Linked DNA regions of Homo sapiens: region 2 is linked to region 1. The links come from fine-mapping of genetic effects on gene expression. Tissue or cell type: sun-exposed skin. Region 1 holds a variant in brackets; the other region holds the start of a gene. All regions are shown on one strand. Distances are from middle to middle.

Region 1 (8,103 bases):
CCTGCCCTGCCCTGCCCCTAGCCTCTCCTTGGAGGTGTTTCCCAGCGACCACTTCCTGATGTCCTTATGCTTGGGCAGGCCACTTCCCCAGTGGATTGCCCATCCTCTTCCCACTCTGACAACGTGGGGTTCCTTCCCCTACCCGCCTCTGCCTTCTCATGGCCTCTAGGGCAGGGCTTGGCATGCCTGCCAGCCTTTTCTTGCCTGGCGATGACTCATCTGGTGCTCATGGGCCCTACTGGCATGTTTCTGATGTTGCTAGGTGTGTTTGACTTTTGTTCGTATTCCCTGGAGCCCCTGGCCTTCATTCTCCTAGGCGGAAGGTTAACTGGCTAGCTGAACTTCAGGACTTACTTCAGTTCTTGTTGGGTGTAGAGTTTTTGTAGTCTAAAATTGGGGTGGTGGGGATTTCCTTTTTTTTTTTTTTTTTTTTTTTTTCTGGAGACAGAGGTTCACTCTTGTTGCCCAGGCTGGAGTGCAATGGCACGATCTCAGCTCACTGCAACCTCCACCCCCCCGGGTTCAAGCGATTCTCCTGCCTCAGCCTCCCGAGTAGCTGGGATTACAGGTACCCGCTGCCATGCCCAGCTAATTTTTGTATTTTTAGTAGAGGCAGGGTGTCACCATGTTGGCCAGACTGGTCTCAAACTCCTGACCTCAAGTGATCTATCCACATTGGTCTCCCAAAGTGCTGGGATTACAGGCGTGAGCCGCCGCACCCTGCCTGAATTTTCTTTTTAATAATAATCTTGAAAGCATTCTTAAAGAAGAAGCAGCTGGGCAACATAGCAAAACCCCATCTCTATAAAGAATAAAAAAGTTTAGCCGGCGTGGTGACATGCACCTGTAGTCCTGGCTACTTGGGAGGCTGAAGCAGGAGGATTTCTTGAGCACAGGAGTTCAAGGCTGCAGTAAGCTATGATCGCACCACTGAACTACAGCCTGGGAAACAGAGCAAGACCCTGTCTGTAAATAAATAAATAAAAAGTGTGTTTGCACTACAGAAAATTTAAAAACAGCAGAACATAGAAGGTGGGGAAAACCATCCTATGAGCTCAGCCACCGTGGAAAATCCACTGGAACAAAGCTGAATGGCCTTTCCTTTTGTTTTGCTTTGCTCTAGAAAATTGTACTAGATGTTCTTTTTTCATTTAACAGTATATTGTGAACATTTTCCTATGTCACTATATATTGTTAGTTTTTTGTTCGTGTTTTTGTTTGTTTGTTTGTTTAGATGGAGTCTTGCTCTGTCGCCCAGGCTGGAGTGCAGTGGCGCGATCTCGGCTCACTGCAACCTCCGCCTCCCAGCCTCCCAGGTTCAAGGGATTATCCTGTTTCAGCCTCCTGAATAGCTGGGACTAAAGGCTTGAGCTACCGTACCTGGCTAATTTTTGTATTTTTAGTAGAGACCGAGTTTCACCGTGTTGGCCAGGCTGGTCTTGAACTCCTGACCTCAAGTGATCCGCCCACCTCAGCCTCCTAAAGTGCTGGGAGTACAGGTGTGAGCCACAGCACGCAGCCTATTAGTATTTTTAATGTCTGTATTATGGTTTACTGAGCAAGTAAATATAATTTTCTGATCTGCTTGCCCATAATCTCTGCAGTGTGGTGGGCCTTTTTTTTTTTTTTAAGTCTTTATAAATAATGACACAGTGTATTTACAGATTTTCTTTTTAAGATGAGTTTCCAGATGTAATGAATCAAAGAACTCTAACAAGGATTCCTTGATGCTGATCTCAAACATGTTATTTTGTCTTTTTTTTACTACCTCCAACTTTAGATAACTTTGGGGTATCTTGTGTCTTAGTGCATTTTTTTTCACTGTATGAGAAGAAAGTGGCTTCCAGTTTCTTAGAAGACTAAAGAAAAATGAGGGTCTCTCTTTTAGATGGTCATTCAGTGCCTTCCAAAGTCTAACCTCTGAGCTCCACTTCCACACCTTTGGGCCTTTCTGTGTTAGCTTCATTTTTTTCTCTTCACCTGGTATGTTCTTTTACCTGCATCTCTACTTGTAGACATCCTGGTTACCCTCCGTGCCTCTGTGAGGCCTTCCCTGATTGCCCTTGTCATGCTTTATCACTTCTGACTTCCTGCTTCTAGAGCTGCTGGTACAGGCCAGATGGATGTGGCCTTCTCCGGTCTATCTTCCCTCAAAGACTGAACTCCTTGAGGGCAGGAGCCAGGCCATATTTGGATCTGTGTCCTTTGCTATTCAAGCAAAAGGCTTGACAGACAGCTGGTCCTCGATGCCTGTCTCATGAACGAACGATTTAGGATGAGGACTGACATTATCTCTTGTTTCCTTTTAGGGCATTCTTCTTGAGCACCGAGAAAAAGAATTTGGAGACAAAGTAAACCTACTTTCTGTTCTGGAAGCTGCTAAGATGATCAAACCACAGACTTTGGCCTCAGAGAAAAAATGATTGTGTGAAACTGCCCAGCTCAGGGATAACCAGGGACATTCACCTGTGTTCATGGGATGTATTGTTTCCACTCGTGTCCCTAAGGAGTGAGAAACCCATTTATACTCTACTCTCAGTATGGATTATTAATGTATTTTAATATTCTGTTTAGGCCCACTAAGGCAAAATAGCCCCAAAACAAGACTGACAAAAATCTGAAAAACTAATGAGGATTATTAAGCTAAAACCTGGGAAATAGGAGGCTTAAAATTGACTGCCAGGCTGGGTGCAGTGGCTCACACCTGTAATCCCAGCACTTTGGGAGGCCAAGGTGAGCAAGTCACTTGAGGTCGGGAGTTCGAGACCAGCCTGAGCAACATGGCGAAACCCCGTCTCTACTAAAAATACAAAAATCACCCGGGTGTGGTGGCAGGCACCTGTAGTCCCAGCTACCCGGGAGGCTGAGGCAGGAGAATCACTTGAACCTGGGAGGTGGAGGTTGCGGTGAGCTGAGATCACACCACTGTATTCCAGCCTGGGTGACTGAGACTCTAACTAAAAAAAAAAAAAAAAAAAAATTGATTGCTGTGCCTCATTACAAATGCATATGATGTTTGAGTGCTGTTGTTTGAAATTATTTTTCTTTTCGGGTCTTCAAAAATTCAAGAAAAGTTGATGATTGACTTGAAGATTACAAAATTTAAGGTTTTTTGGCATGTGTGTTTTCTATTAATAATTGGTTATATGATGTCAAAGTAATACTTTCATAATAGAATTGACATGCTCTGGGATAGTTTGACAAAGGTAAATTATAAAGTGAAATCTCTTGTTTCATTATCTTCCATTCTAACCTCAGAGATCTGTTTCTCTAGAAAAAATGTCCATCTCTGGCTTTAATAAAATTATGCATCAGAAATCACCTGTATGTATAAGATTTTCTGATAAAACTAATAATTATATTTACCATATAATTGGCTGAAAGTAAAAAAAGTCAGCATTCTCCATGGCTGAGGGGTAAAGTGCCTCGGGGGATTCCTCTGGTTCTAGCTATCTAAGTGGTTTGAAAATGACCAGGAAAAATTCATCCTGTCATTCACGTTAGTAATTTTGCTGTCTTTCCTAGAGGAATGACTTTGGTGTTTAAAATTGGTAGCTGTTTTTCTATTGGTCTTTTAGCCTAATTTGGCAAATCAGAAGAAAGGACATAGAGATGATGAAATATAACTTTATCTTTTTTGTTTGAATTTTGTCGTGTAAGTTTGAGTGACATCATCAAGACCTACCAGGGAGCTCGGCCACAGGGAGTCTACTCAAGGCATCAAACTGGCCCAGGAGTAGAAAGGTGGGGGTGGAAATAGGAAATAGTGTTTACCCAGGGGACTGGCCCAGCCAGGAGGAGAAAGGAATCAGTGTTTACCCAGGAAAGCAAGAATGGATACTGATGTTGGAGGTAAAGCTGGGAAAGTAGGAGAGCATCGGGATTGAGTATGCAGAGTGAGTTAGGGTTGAGTGGTTCGGGACTAAGACCCACTAAGACCATGCCTGCACCTGACTTCATGTAGCAGTGGTTGCATGGGGTATGCATGGGCCCTTAAAGGGCTGGGCTTCTGCAGCATTTGAGGCCATAGCCTTTGGTACTTGCACAGGGTTGGTACCTGTCATCCTTGGGACTCCAGCTACTGATAGGATAACTCAGTACCTAAACTTAGAACTTTAATACCTAAGACACTTGATGGTGAAACAGTTCTCTTGCAACTAAAGAAGAACCTGAGGTCAGGTGTGGTGGCTCACGCCTGTAATCCTAGCACTTTGGGAAGTCGAGGTAGAAGGATCACTTGAGGTCAGGAGTTCGAGACCAGCCTGGCCAGCATGGTGAAACCCCATCTCTACTAAAAATACAAAATATTAGACAGACGGGGTGGTACATGCCTGTAATCCCAGCTACTTGGGAGGCTGAGGCAGGAGAATCGCTTGAACCCAGGAGGCAGAGGTTGCAGTGAGCCGAGATCGTGCCACTGCACTCCAGCTTGGGCAACAAGAGCGAAACTCCATATCAAAAAAAAAAACCTGAGAGGAC[A/G]TTGCACCAATGGAGATGCATCAAGAGAAACATGTTTGGTTTTTTGTGAGCTCTCACCAACTTTTTTCCCCTGGGTCCTCACGTGCAGTGTGGTCTTCTCTTTCTGATTAGCATGTCATTTTGGAAAGAGCACTGGATTGAGTCATGAGGCATAATCAATTTCTAGTTTACCAGTGTGATCTTAAGCAAAGATCTAACTCATTGGCAAAATGGGCGTGATTCCTTCCCATTCAGGGCTGTTTATGATAAGTCACTGAGGGAATGATAAATATTATGACACTGCTTCTCAGACTGTAATGTACATGCACATCACATAAGGACCTTATTAAAATGGAGACTTAAAAAGCTGGACGCTAAAGGCAATAATGACAGATTTTACTCAATAACTACTGCAGAAGGAGAGAGTCCTCAGTATAGAACTGAGCTTAGCTCCAATCTGTGCAGAGGTGATGGAATTTTAAAGAGGGGAGGGAGGAGGTTCAAATAGAACTAGGGAAGTGCAAAATTACAAAAAGCTGGTAAGGAGATTGGTCAATGTGATTCGGCTATCTGTGTCTACTAACTCTCAAATTTATTTATCAAAGTTAGGATCCTAGCCTCCCACAGAGACCAGGAGTCGGCCTTATCATTCCTGATAATTATATGACAAAGGGATGGCTCCCAGAAAAAGTGAGAAACACATTCCTGTGCAGCAGAAGATACATATATCCCCCAAAGGGACAGAAAGGATTTACAATTGTAAATTTTATAAAGTATGTCCTCTAAGAAGAGGGAGGGACTGGGTGCCATGGCTCATGCCTATAATCCCAGCACTTTGGGTGGCCAAGGTGGGTGCATCACCTGAGGTCAGGAGTTCAAGAGCAGCCTGGCCAACATGGTGAAACCCTGTCTCTACTAAAAATACAAAAGTTAGCCTGTTGTGGTGGCGCGCACCTGTAATCCCAGCTACTCGGGTGGCTGAGGCAGGAGAATCGCTTGAACCCAGGAGGCGGAGGGTGCAGTGAGCCGGGATCACGCCACTGCACTTCAGCCTGGGTGACAGAGTGTGACTCCATCTCAAGAAAAACGAGGGAGATTAGAAACCTATGATCAGGCATTGGCTGAAACAAATGGTAAATTCTTTTGGCAGCCTTGAGCTTCCCCAGGCAGGGACCCAAAGGGGCCTGGGTTATCCCTGAGACAGGGCCTTGAGCTGCTAGAAACTATGCTAGTGTTTGTTCAAGTCTCTCCGTGTCCGGGGTGAGCAAAATTGTTTGTGCTGAAAATCAATGATTTGCAGCTCTCAAGATTCCAGTGGGCAGTCTGGGTGGGCCTGAGTTTCTGCTTTTTTTTTTTCTTTATGTACAGGGTCTTGCTCTGTCACCTAGGCTAGAGTGTAATTAGTGGCCCCAGTCATGGCTCACTGCAGCTGCAAACTGGCTGCAAGCTGTTCTGGCTCAGCCTACCAAGTTACTGGGCTTACAGGTGGATGCCACCGTACCCAACAGATTTTATTTTTGTAGGGATGGGGGTCTCCCTGTATTGCCCAGGCTGGTCTCAAACTCCTGGCCTCCCAAAGTGTTTAGATTACAGGTGTAAGCCACCACACGTGGCCAGCCTCTGCATTTCTAACAGGTTCCAGGTGATCTTGATGTTCTGCTGGTCCATGGGTCACACTTTGAGAAGCATGGTTCTAAAGGACTATACAGATTAAAGTCATTAATCTCTGTGGGCTTTGGACTTGAAGTTTCAGCAGCCTTTGACAAGCATTTGCAGGTTTCCTTTTTATTTATTTGATAAACTGAGAATCCACATGCAAAGAAATGCAAGAAAATTCAAAGAACGTAAGAAAATGTCCTTGCTGTAAAGCTGGTGGTTCTCAATCTCGGATACACAGTAGAATCACCTGGTGCGGGGGTTGGGGGCGGGGTGCAGTGTAAAAATTATTAAATCAGAATCTCTGGGGTAGGCCCCAAGCAACTTTTTTTTTTTTTTTTTTAGATAGAATCTTGCTTGTCACCTAGGCTAGAGTGCAGTAATGCAATCATGGCTCACTGCTGCCTTAACTTCTGGGCTCAAGTGATATCCTCCCACCTCAGCCTCCCTAGTAGCTGGGACTACAGGCGTGGACTACCACACCCAACAAATTTTTAAATTTTTTGTAGAGGCAAGCTCTTATACTATCTTGCACAGGCTGGTCTCGAACTCCTGGGCTCAAGCAGTCATCCTGCCTCAGCCTTCCAAAGCTCAGGGATTACAGACATGAGCCACAGCACCAGGCCAACAATATTTCTTAAAGCTCCTGGAGTGATTCCAATATGCAGCCAAGGTTGAAAACCACCCTTTAAAAGGCTCGGCATCCAGTGTGGAAGACCAGCACACTCACGTCAGGAGACCTTACCTGGAGCCAGGATGCCCCTGATCATCTCTGATAACTTTAAAAGGAAGGCCTCAGAAGCAGCCCCAGAAGCAAAAGTTTCTCTCTGACCTTCTCCTGCCCTCTTGTTTCTGGCTTTTCATTCTCCCCCAAGGCTACCCATAGAAACTAGAATCCCTCTTCCCCAAGGCAGGTCATCAGAAACCAGAACCGGTTTTACCCAAAGCCAGCCATAAAACCTAAAAATAGTCCTCTCACTCCCCATTCCCCTTTCTGTGTAAAAACTGGTTGGAAAGAAATGATCTGACCTACCGTGTTTGACTGTCGTAAGATACCCATTCCAGAGAGGGTCCCACCCCGTGCCCAGAAGGAAGGAATCCTGCACAGAGAGGCCAAGAAGAATCTAGACAGCCTTGCTGGGTTTCCCCTCTCAGTCTATTACTATTAGATCATACCCTTCTTGTCCAATCATATTTCTACACAGTCCATAATCTGTTGAACCTAAACATAAAAATGGACAATTCCCCTGTATCTTGGGGTCTTCATTCTGAGGGCTCACATACAATTATGATCAAATAAATTTGTTTGCTTTTTCTCCTGTTAATTTGCCTCTTGTCAGTGATTTTTTCAGCAAGTCTGCAGCGGGTGAAGGGCGAGTTTTTCCTTGGCCCTAGCAGTGGCAAGGGTCACAGATGGTGTGGACAGGGGTGCATGGGGAACCCCCAGCTGGAGGAACTTCCAAGGCAGAGATTTGGATAGCGAAGCATGGCTAGGGGAAAACGGAGGAGTCTAGTCTGTTTTGTTTACCTGGTTCTATGTCCTCTCTCCCAGTATGCAGATTTCTCAAAAGCAATGCCTGTGTCTGCTTCCTCTCTTTCCCAGAGCAAAGCATACCATTGCAGTGTAGGGGAGTGGAGGGCAGGGAAGGTGAGCTGTGGGGAAGAGGCTGTAGGGGCTGTGAGGATAGAGGGTGGATGCAGTCAGGGCAGACTGCAGTTTCTTCCCAGCACTAGCTGCCCTCCCTCCATTCTGGGTTGCCAGTGCCCCATGGGGCAAGCAAGAAGGTGTGTATTTGTCAGTTTATGTTTGGGAGGGGAAGGGAAAGAAAGTTGATTTGTTCTCATTTAACCCTTCAAATCCTTTCTACATTTAAAGGAGGATTTGTCATTTTGTTTTGAAGACAGTAACAATTGAGGATGATAGTGGGTTAGATCCCTGGATTAGGGAGGTGTGGGGAGGTCCTTTCAAGGACATGCTTCTTCCAGCTG
Region 2 (8,103 bases), 24 kb before region 1:
ACACTGTGGAAGTATAGGATTTTTTATGCTTAAAACAAATAAGAAAGAGCTGAATTCAGGGATATTGGCATATAGAGAAAATATTTGAAGCTGATCTATGCACATCTATTTTTGAGATTCACATACAAGTCTTGTTCTTGATTTCGCTTTTACCCATCCACAGAATGGTAACCTGGGCCTGACATATTGAAGTGAAGTATCAGTTTTTGCTCTATTTTCATCTTGATGCTAGCTGCTTCCTGACTGTTCCCAGCGAGCCCAGACACCACAGGGCCATAAGCTTAAAAAGATCATGTTACTTCAGTCACTGCTGAGTAGCAGACGAAGCTGAAGCCAGCTGAATCTAGAAGTGCTATGACGCTGAAAAAGTCAGGAGTCTTTACCCAGATCTGCCTCCTGCAAGCAGTGTTTTCTGCCTGCCCTATGGGACTTGTGAGGGACAGAAAAGTTTCCCAGCCCCTGTCAAGATGGTAACATTATCTAAAGTTATCACAAAGCTTCTAGTCAACCTTAATTTCTACCACCTGAAATTCAGAACCTAAGGCTATTTTACAATCTTTACAAAATTTAAATTATTTTTCTCTTAAAAGCTGGGCAGGTTGGTGGGTTTTCTTGGTTTATTCTTCAGGTTTTTTGTTTTGGTTTGGTTTTTGGTTTTAGTCCTTGAGCTTTGTAAATAAGTTTTCCTGCGCCTGCTTGCCTGTAACTTATTTTTCTGGTCTAATGACTGTTTTTTAATGAGTTCAGCCTGTGCTTTCTTGTACAAAAAGAAACGTGGGCATGTGAGGAGCATATTAATTAGCTATCAGATGTAGCCTGGTTTTTGAAGTCCAGATCTTCAGGATGTTACCGAAGTGTAAATATAAGCATGACTTTTGCACGTGATTAGTAATTACATCACAGTTAAAGCCTCAGGGGACCTTCCACCCCAGAATTCTGCTATCCTCAACCCCTGAATGGCTCTGTCATTAATGGTCAGTCTCCAAGAACTCATTTCCCAAGGAAATGACTTCCTGTTTTGTTCTAAGTGGCCTTCCCTGCAAACCCTCCTCACCTTTGAACTTCCTATTTTGGGATGGAAAGATTGACCCTTCTCCCGCTCCTCTTCACAAGGTAAGGAGAAACAAGGGAGAAGAAAGAAAGGTCCTCTGGAGAGAGATATATGTATCATACATATCTTATACATATATCATATATATCTTATATATCTCATATATATCTTATATATATCTTATATATCATATATATATATATATATATATATATATATATAAAACTACACCCGCATTGCACCAAAGTATACGAAATATTTTCTGGCCTTCAAATCATATGCCTAACTCCTGCAGGAAAACTGCATGGGCACTCAGGCTGATCTCCCTTACCCCACAACTTAGATCCACCTCTCACGTTTTCTAAGTTTATTTCCACGCTGTCCCTGGGCCAGGCTCTAGGGTCCCAGAGGTGAAGTGGAGGAATTCACAGTTTGGTTGAGGAGAGACCCCCTTGAATAGATCAAGCTCCCCAAGTGTTGCTGTAAGTTTACATGGAACATGGAGTCTGAGTGGGAAGTCAGGGAGGTGAATCACGGAAGCCTTTGGACTTTGTACACCTGTGGGCAGCTCCCAGATGAAGGGGGGAAGGTGTTGCAGGCAAATGACCACCTTTGACGGGCGGACATCGGCCTGCTTTGCCACTTCACCTTATGCTGCCCTGTGACTGGTCTTTGCACTGTGTCACCGATATGTCTTTTTTTTTTTTTTTTGAGACGGAATCTCACTCTGTCACCCAGGCTGGAGTGTAGTGGCACCATCTCGGCTCACTGCAACCTCCACCTCCGGGGTTCAAGCTATTCTCCTGCCTCAGCCTCTTGAGTAGCTGGGACTACGGGTGCGCGCCACCACACCCGGCTAATTTTTGTATTTTTAGTAGAGACGAGGTTTTGCCATGTTGGTCAGGCTGGTCTCGAACTCCTGCCCTCAAGTGATCTGCCCGCCTTGGCTTCCCAAAGTGTTGGGATTACAGGCATGAGACACCGAGCCCGGCCAACCACTAATATGTATCGTGAGTCAGCTCTGCTGTCTCTGAAAGTCCAACCTCCTACTTTTTGTTTTTTGTTGTTAAGACAGGGTCTTTTTTTTGTTTTTTAAAGACAGGCTGGAGTGCAGTGGCGCGATCTGGGCTCACTGCAACCTCCGCCTCCCGGGTTCAAGCGATCCTCCCACCTCAGCTCCAGAGTAGCTGGAAATACAGGCACGCGCCACTATGCCTGGCTAGTTTTTGTTTTTTACGTAGAGATGGAGTCTTACTATGGTGCCCAGACTGGTCTTGAACTCCTGGGCTCAAGCGATCCTCCCAAAGCCCTGAGATTACAGGCGTGAGCCAGCGCGCCGGACACAACCTCCTACTTTCATGAAAGAGTGGGCACTTCCAACAGGAGGAGTAAGTGGATGAGCGGTGTGTGACACACCCGCCTCAGCGTCGCCCGGAGTCCGCAAGGCTGCGGCTCACCGTTCTCTGCCCCATAGCTGGCATTGTGGAGTGAAAGGGAACGTGGGTGGAGGATTGAGGTTGGAAATTCTGAATCTGTACATACAGCTTGAAGGGGCTCATCGAATGTGTCGGTCCTTTAGATTCCCCCTGCCCATGGAGGTTAAAAAAAAAAAAAAAACCTATCAAAAGAGCTATTCAAAACCAGGCTGAAGATTGGAAGGAAGTTGGCCAGCCTCGGCTGCAGGACAGGTGCTTCCAGGCTCCATTAGGGGTGTCCAGCGCCTTCTTTTGCCCTAGGCAGCGCCCTGAAGAACGCGTCGGGGCCTCGGTTCGCGGACTTGAGGAGTGGACCGACCGAGCGCTGTGCGTAAAAGGACCGCTGGGGCACACGCCCGAGCGCCACCGGAGCTAGGAGACCGCGGCCCGGAGGTCGGCGAGTCGGGGGCAGGCCCGGAGCTCCTCCCACGGGGGGCGGGGCGGGTCACATGGCGGTGGCGCGGTAGCGCGCGATGCAGCACAGGCTAGAGGCTGCGCAAGCGCGGGGCCCGCCCCTGGGACCCTCCGGGCCGGGCGGTTTGGCCCCTTAGCGCCCGGGCGTCGGGGCGGTAAAAGGCCGGCAGAAGGGAGGCACTTGAGGTAGGTGCTGCGCGCCGGGGCTCCGCGAGGCACGTGATGTCCGTAGGCGGGGCCTGCCGCGGCGTAGGTGGGGAAACTGAGGCAGTGCAGGGCCGGTAGGGTGGGTGCTGGGCTGGTGAGGCGCGCCCCTCGGGCCCGCGCCAACTTTCTTAGGAGCCGCCGCAGCGCTGGCGCTCCCTCCGAGGACGACGACCCTTCCGCCACCCTGCGTGGCGGCCGATGGAAAAACCCTGCGCCCAGACGTCGGAGAACGGAGACGGGGACCCGGCGCTGCTGCGGCGGGCTAGGGCCCCCTCTGTCCACGCCCGCAAGCCTTGAGTGACGCCGGTGGCGCCAACCTTCGCGAATTGTTGGGACAAAGAACAGAGGAGAGGGCCCTGCCCTGGAGCATGGGCCCGGGGGCCGCCCTGCTGGACCAGCCCCAGGTGCGGACCTGGCAGTCCTCGTCCTCGTCTCTGTGCCCGCTTAGGGTCGTGTCTTTTAAGAGGGCACGGTTTCTAGCGTTGTTCAGCGTTTCGGAGGCACCTGTTCCCCCTCTTTCCCAAGAGTCACAAACGCCTGACTTTAAATTGGGTAGAGCCCAGTTGTAAACTTAACAGCCCTGCTGAGGTCTAGGAATGAAAAGATGAACAATCTGCCCCCAGGGTTGTTGCTGGAGCGGGAGGTGAAGGCGCAGGTGGAGATGGTTAGAGGCAAAGGAAGGGAAGTCAAGGCCCAGCCGGTCCAGGGCTGTGGGAAGGAGGCACACCCGGGAGTCCACTGCCGGACCGGGGTTCCCAGCTGCTCCTGCGCCTCTTTTCCTTGCCACATCATGCTGTCTGCACAGCCCAGCAACCCAGAACTCAGCTTTTTTGTTTGTTTTATTTTAATGTATTTTCCTTTGAACCTGGCAGGTGGTTTTTCAAAAAGAAAATAATCAAGATTTGTTTTGAAAAGCATTGTGAAAAAGTCAGCTTGAATAGTCTTGAATGCTCCTGCTCGGGCCCAGCTTTGGAGAATGAGGATTGGGATTTCCACTGCAGACCCCGACTCGTTACCATACTCATTCATCAGAAAACTCTTCATTTTGTGTACAAATAACGTTTTGAGGGTAATCATTGCTCTAGAAATGAAGAATTATACATCGTATTTATTGCACTTTTTGTAAGGTACCTCACAAGGCACCTCCTATACATTTAATCCTTTGATTCTTGCAACTCTGTAGAAGGTAATTAAGGAAGCATTCCCATTTTACTGATGCAAAACAGTTCCTTGTCCAGGTTTATACAGCTTGCAAGAATTAAAGTTAGATATTATTCTTGGTGTGGGCCTTTCCTATATCCCCGTCTTTTATAAGAGCATGTCATTTAGTTGAGACCTTCTGCATTACTTCTGAAGGGGTACAAAAGACATTTCTGATGATTTTCTCATCTCGTGTCATTTAAATGGTGCTCAGAAAGTTTGGATAGGACTGGAACTCTAGGGCTCAAGCCCCAGGCTCTGTCCCTATCTAAGCAATAGGGCAGCTGTCCTGCCAGTTGGGTTCTTGCTTCTTTGTGAAATGTTGAGCAGAAGCTCCAAGTCTCTCTGCTGTGGCTTGTGTGGCAAGAACCATCCTGAGGTTCTGTGCAGAGAGCCAGCCTCACCTTTGAGCTCAGTGGCCTCTGGCACAGGGAAATTACAGCTGGGCAGTGTCCTTTGCCTTCTCTGGCACTGCTAGTGCAGGAGGCAGTGTTAGCTGCTACAGGAATAGCATGGAGCGGGCCTGCAGGCCAGAGGGGCTGAGACAAGCCAGTGTTCCCACCAGACCTAGAACGTTCACCAGAAAGCAGGCCTGCAGTGACACAGCTGCAGAAGTTCACTATTTTGTGCCTGTCCTGCTTCAGATATCCTGTCTTTATAGGGGCACGAGTGAATCTGAGCCCTGCAAAAGAGAGAAAGATAATGCTGCTTTGCCGTTTTCTAGTGCGTTACCGCATTAAAAATTGCTCTTCTTATATAATCTTTATGACAACTCTTTAAAGTGCCCTTGTTTTTAAGAAGACACTGAGGTTCAGAGGGATAAAATAACTCTCAGAGTCAAAGAGAGAAAACCCAGGATTATTGGCTTTTAGCCCAGTGTCTTCTGTGGTATTGCCTTGCCTTCCTATCCACACCCATATAACTTGATGAAGCCGGAGTTCTGAGCCCAGACAGGAGGCTGTGCAAGTGAGATTAGAATGGCTTGCTCTTTGAGGGGTGGGGGGCCCTACAGCTTGAGGAAACAAGAGGACATAATCAGCTACTGGGAAACCCTGAGATACGCCCAAGAGTGAGGAATGTGGGGGCTGGTGCTGCTTTCAGCATCTATTCAGAGGTTTCTGAATCTGGCATTTGAGAGTAGGACTGGGCCAGAACCAGGCAGATACACACCCCAAGGAGCAGGGCTGAGAGTTGGAGACTGAGGCAGGTAGGTGAGAGCTCATTGCAAGTGACTGATTTTGTGGTATATGAAGACAAGGGTGGGTGGAAGGGCATCTGTTGCTCATAAGGCTCTGTGTGCCTGCATCATCAGTATGCTAGACAAGGATGGACAGAGTCTTGTTATTGTGGGGAAGAGAGGTGCAGAATGGCTTCTCAGCGGAGACTAGGCAATGAGACCCTTAAGACATTTGGCTTCAGATTATAAGCTGCTTACCAAGGATTGGGCTTGGGAGAGGCTGATGATGTTCTCTCCAGGCAGCAGATTTCCCAGGCCCTGTTTACGGGCAGTCTTGCTCTTAGCTTGCCTGAGGCCAGTGAACAGGCTTCAAGACCTGCAGGGCCCCACTTCCTGAGCCCAGACTGCCATGCTATTCCAGCCTTAGAGGCCACTGGCCCTTGGCTGGCTGCCCAGGACCTAGCGTGTCTGATGCAGGATAAACAGTCATGGACTGGAAGTTGGGAGACCCAAACCTGAGTCCCAGTGCAGCCACTGACAACCTGCCCTGCCCATGTGACCTTGGACTAGCCAGCTCCTTCTCTGAGCTTTAGTTTCTTCATTTGCTCAGTAAAATGAGCTGAACCAGCGCTTTGAGGGAAGGAGAGGGAAACAGAGGAGACCAGAGAAGGAAGATGAAGCATCCTTTCAAGACTTGTTCACTGAGGGCCTGAGGCAAGGAGGCCCATGTGCACTCTTAGTTTTTTGTCTCCCTCAGCACCTTTTCTTGCTTCTCCCCTATCTCTGCCTCAGGCCAGCTCATTCTGAAGAGGGACGATTCCCTGGGTGGGGCTGGGCTGGGCAGGTGTACCCTTGATGTTTAGAATATGATGCTGTCTCTACTTGTTTCAGACATGATTTAACTCAGCCAGTGCTGATACTTTGTTTCATTAAGACTTTATCAGTTCCTGCCCAGAGGCAGCTCCTGGAACAGTCAGGAGTTAGGCCCAGCAAAGGAGGCAGGGTGAATGTGCACACCCAGCAGAAGAACAGTGGTGGCAGGGGTTCCCATGGCTTTCTAGACATCAGATCCCTGTAGTTGCAGTCACATGGTACTTTAGAGTCTTTGGATGTCAGAGCTAAGACAACCTCATAGAATTTTGAGTTCCTTCCTCTGTATAGATGATGAGATCCAGGCCCCGAGTGTCTTCATACCTTAAGTCAGATTGCCCTGCTAGTGAGCAGTAGAGCGAGGACCCAGCCTAAGGTTACCTAAGTCCCAAGCTAGAGTGTTTTCTTTAATATCAAGCCAGCCCTGTCCAAAATTGCCTTTCATACTGAACTGAAATTGGAATTGAGTAGTTATAAGTTCCAAGTCTGCCTCACTGTGGAATTCTAAGAGTAAAATTCAGATAATTTAATTAACATTTAATGCCTGATAATTACCAGGATCTGTGTTGAGTGCTGGGGATGCAGGAATGAAGACGACAACACATTGTGCCAACATATTGTGGAGACAGACATGTAAATAACTAAAATTTACACAATTCATTTGTGCATTGTGCAGGGTTATGGGTGTGTGCGCACACACATGCACGCTATAGAAGAGGTCAGTGAGCAGTCAGTTGTCAGGGCTTTCAGGAAAGGCTTTGGAGAGGAAGTGTTATGTGTGCTGGGCCTTATGAATAAGTAGGCATTTACGTGGTTGGCCTGGGTCAGAGGGGGGCATCCCGGGCAAAGGAAACAACATGAGCAACACTTGCTGAAGCCAAGCTGTGGAGGGCCCCATCAGCTGGCTTGCTGAGGAGTTTATTGTTAGTGAGAGTCTGAACACAAGGGAAAGGTGTAATCAGGTGGGGGTGTGCTGGGATCGCTCTGACTACGGCTTGGAAAATAAACTATAGAGGACCAGACTAGAACCAAGCCAGATTCATTCTGTGGTTCTTGAAATAGGCTAGGGACAGAGTTATAGGATCCTGGGTTTGGGCAGCAGCAGTGAGGTCGAGAAGAGGATGGGTAGCAGATACATTTTAGAAGATGGACAGAACTTCCTGAGTCGATGTAGGCAGTGAAGGCAAATGAACAGTAAAATGTGAACCCCTGTCCCCCACTGTCCCCCCTCCCTGCCCCCCCATCTACTGAGCCATGGAACTCCAGCAGAGAAATCGACTTTAGTTTTGGATGTGGTACAACCAAGACACCTACAAAACCCCCAAGTGGAAACTTTGGGTCAGAACAGCAATAGGAACTTGGAAGTCAATAACAAAGTGGTGGGAGAAGTGCTGGAAGTCACCCAGGAAGGGAGTGTGGGTTGAGGGAAGCCACCGATGTGGCAGAAAAGGAAGGGAAAGCAAAAGGAGGTAAAGAATAGACAGCAGATGAGGGGCCTCAGAGGTGCCAGCTGACTTTCCAGGCCTGGGGTGAGGAATGGGGCAAGGGAGCAGGCTGCACGAGGAGCCACAGAGAAAAGGACATCTTCTTTTATTTGCGCTAGTATGACATGTGGGCTGTGTTACGAGCTTTGCTTCTTTAGTCTGCACCGGATAGCAGAGGAGTCTGGTGGCACTTGGGAAATGTTATAATCTGCATGACTGCAAATG

The links. PIP is the estimated chance that this variant, and not a neighbour inherited with it, causes the effect.
Region 2: PRXL2A starts here. The variant in region 1 is fine-mapped to the expression of PRXL2A in sun-exposed skin (GTEx, PIP 0.98).

Annotation. Positions count from the first base shown.
Region 1 is chr10:80,429,677-80,437,779 of GRCh38, forward strand. PRXL2A (peroxiredoxin like 2A) reads left to right here. Exons shown (of 6, transcript NM_032333.5): 6 at 2,310-7,439. The coding sequence ends at 2,423. Among named protein-coding and RNA genes, the nearest start is that of TSPAN14, 21 kb to the right of the region's middle. The variant A/G (reference allele first, on the strand shown) is at 4,480.
Region 2 is chr10:80,405,518-80,413,620 of GRCh38, forward strand. PRXL2A (peroxiredoxin like 2A) reads left to right here and starts at 3,034. Exons shown (of 6, transcript NM_032333.5): 1 at 3,034-3,126. RefSeq lists a silencer at 2,813-3,102 and enhancers at 3,388-3,981, 4,828-5,327.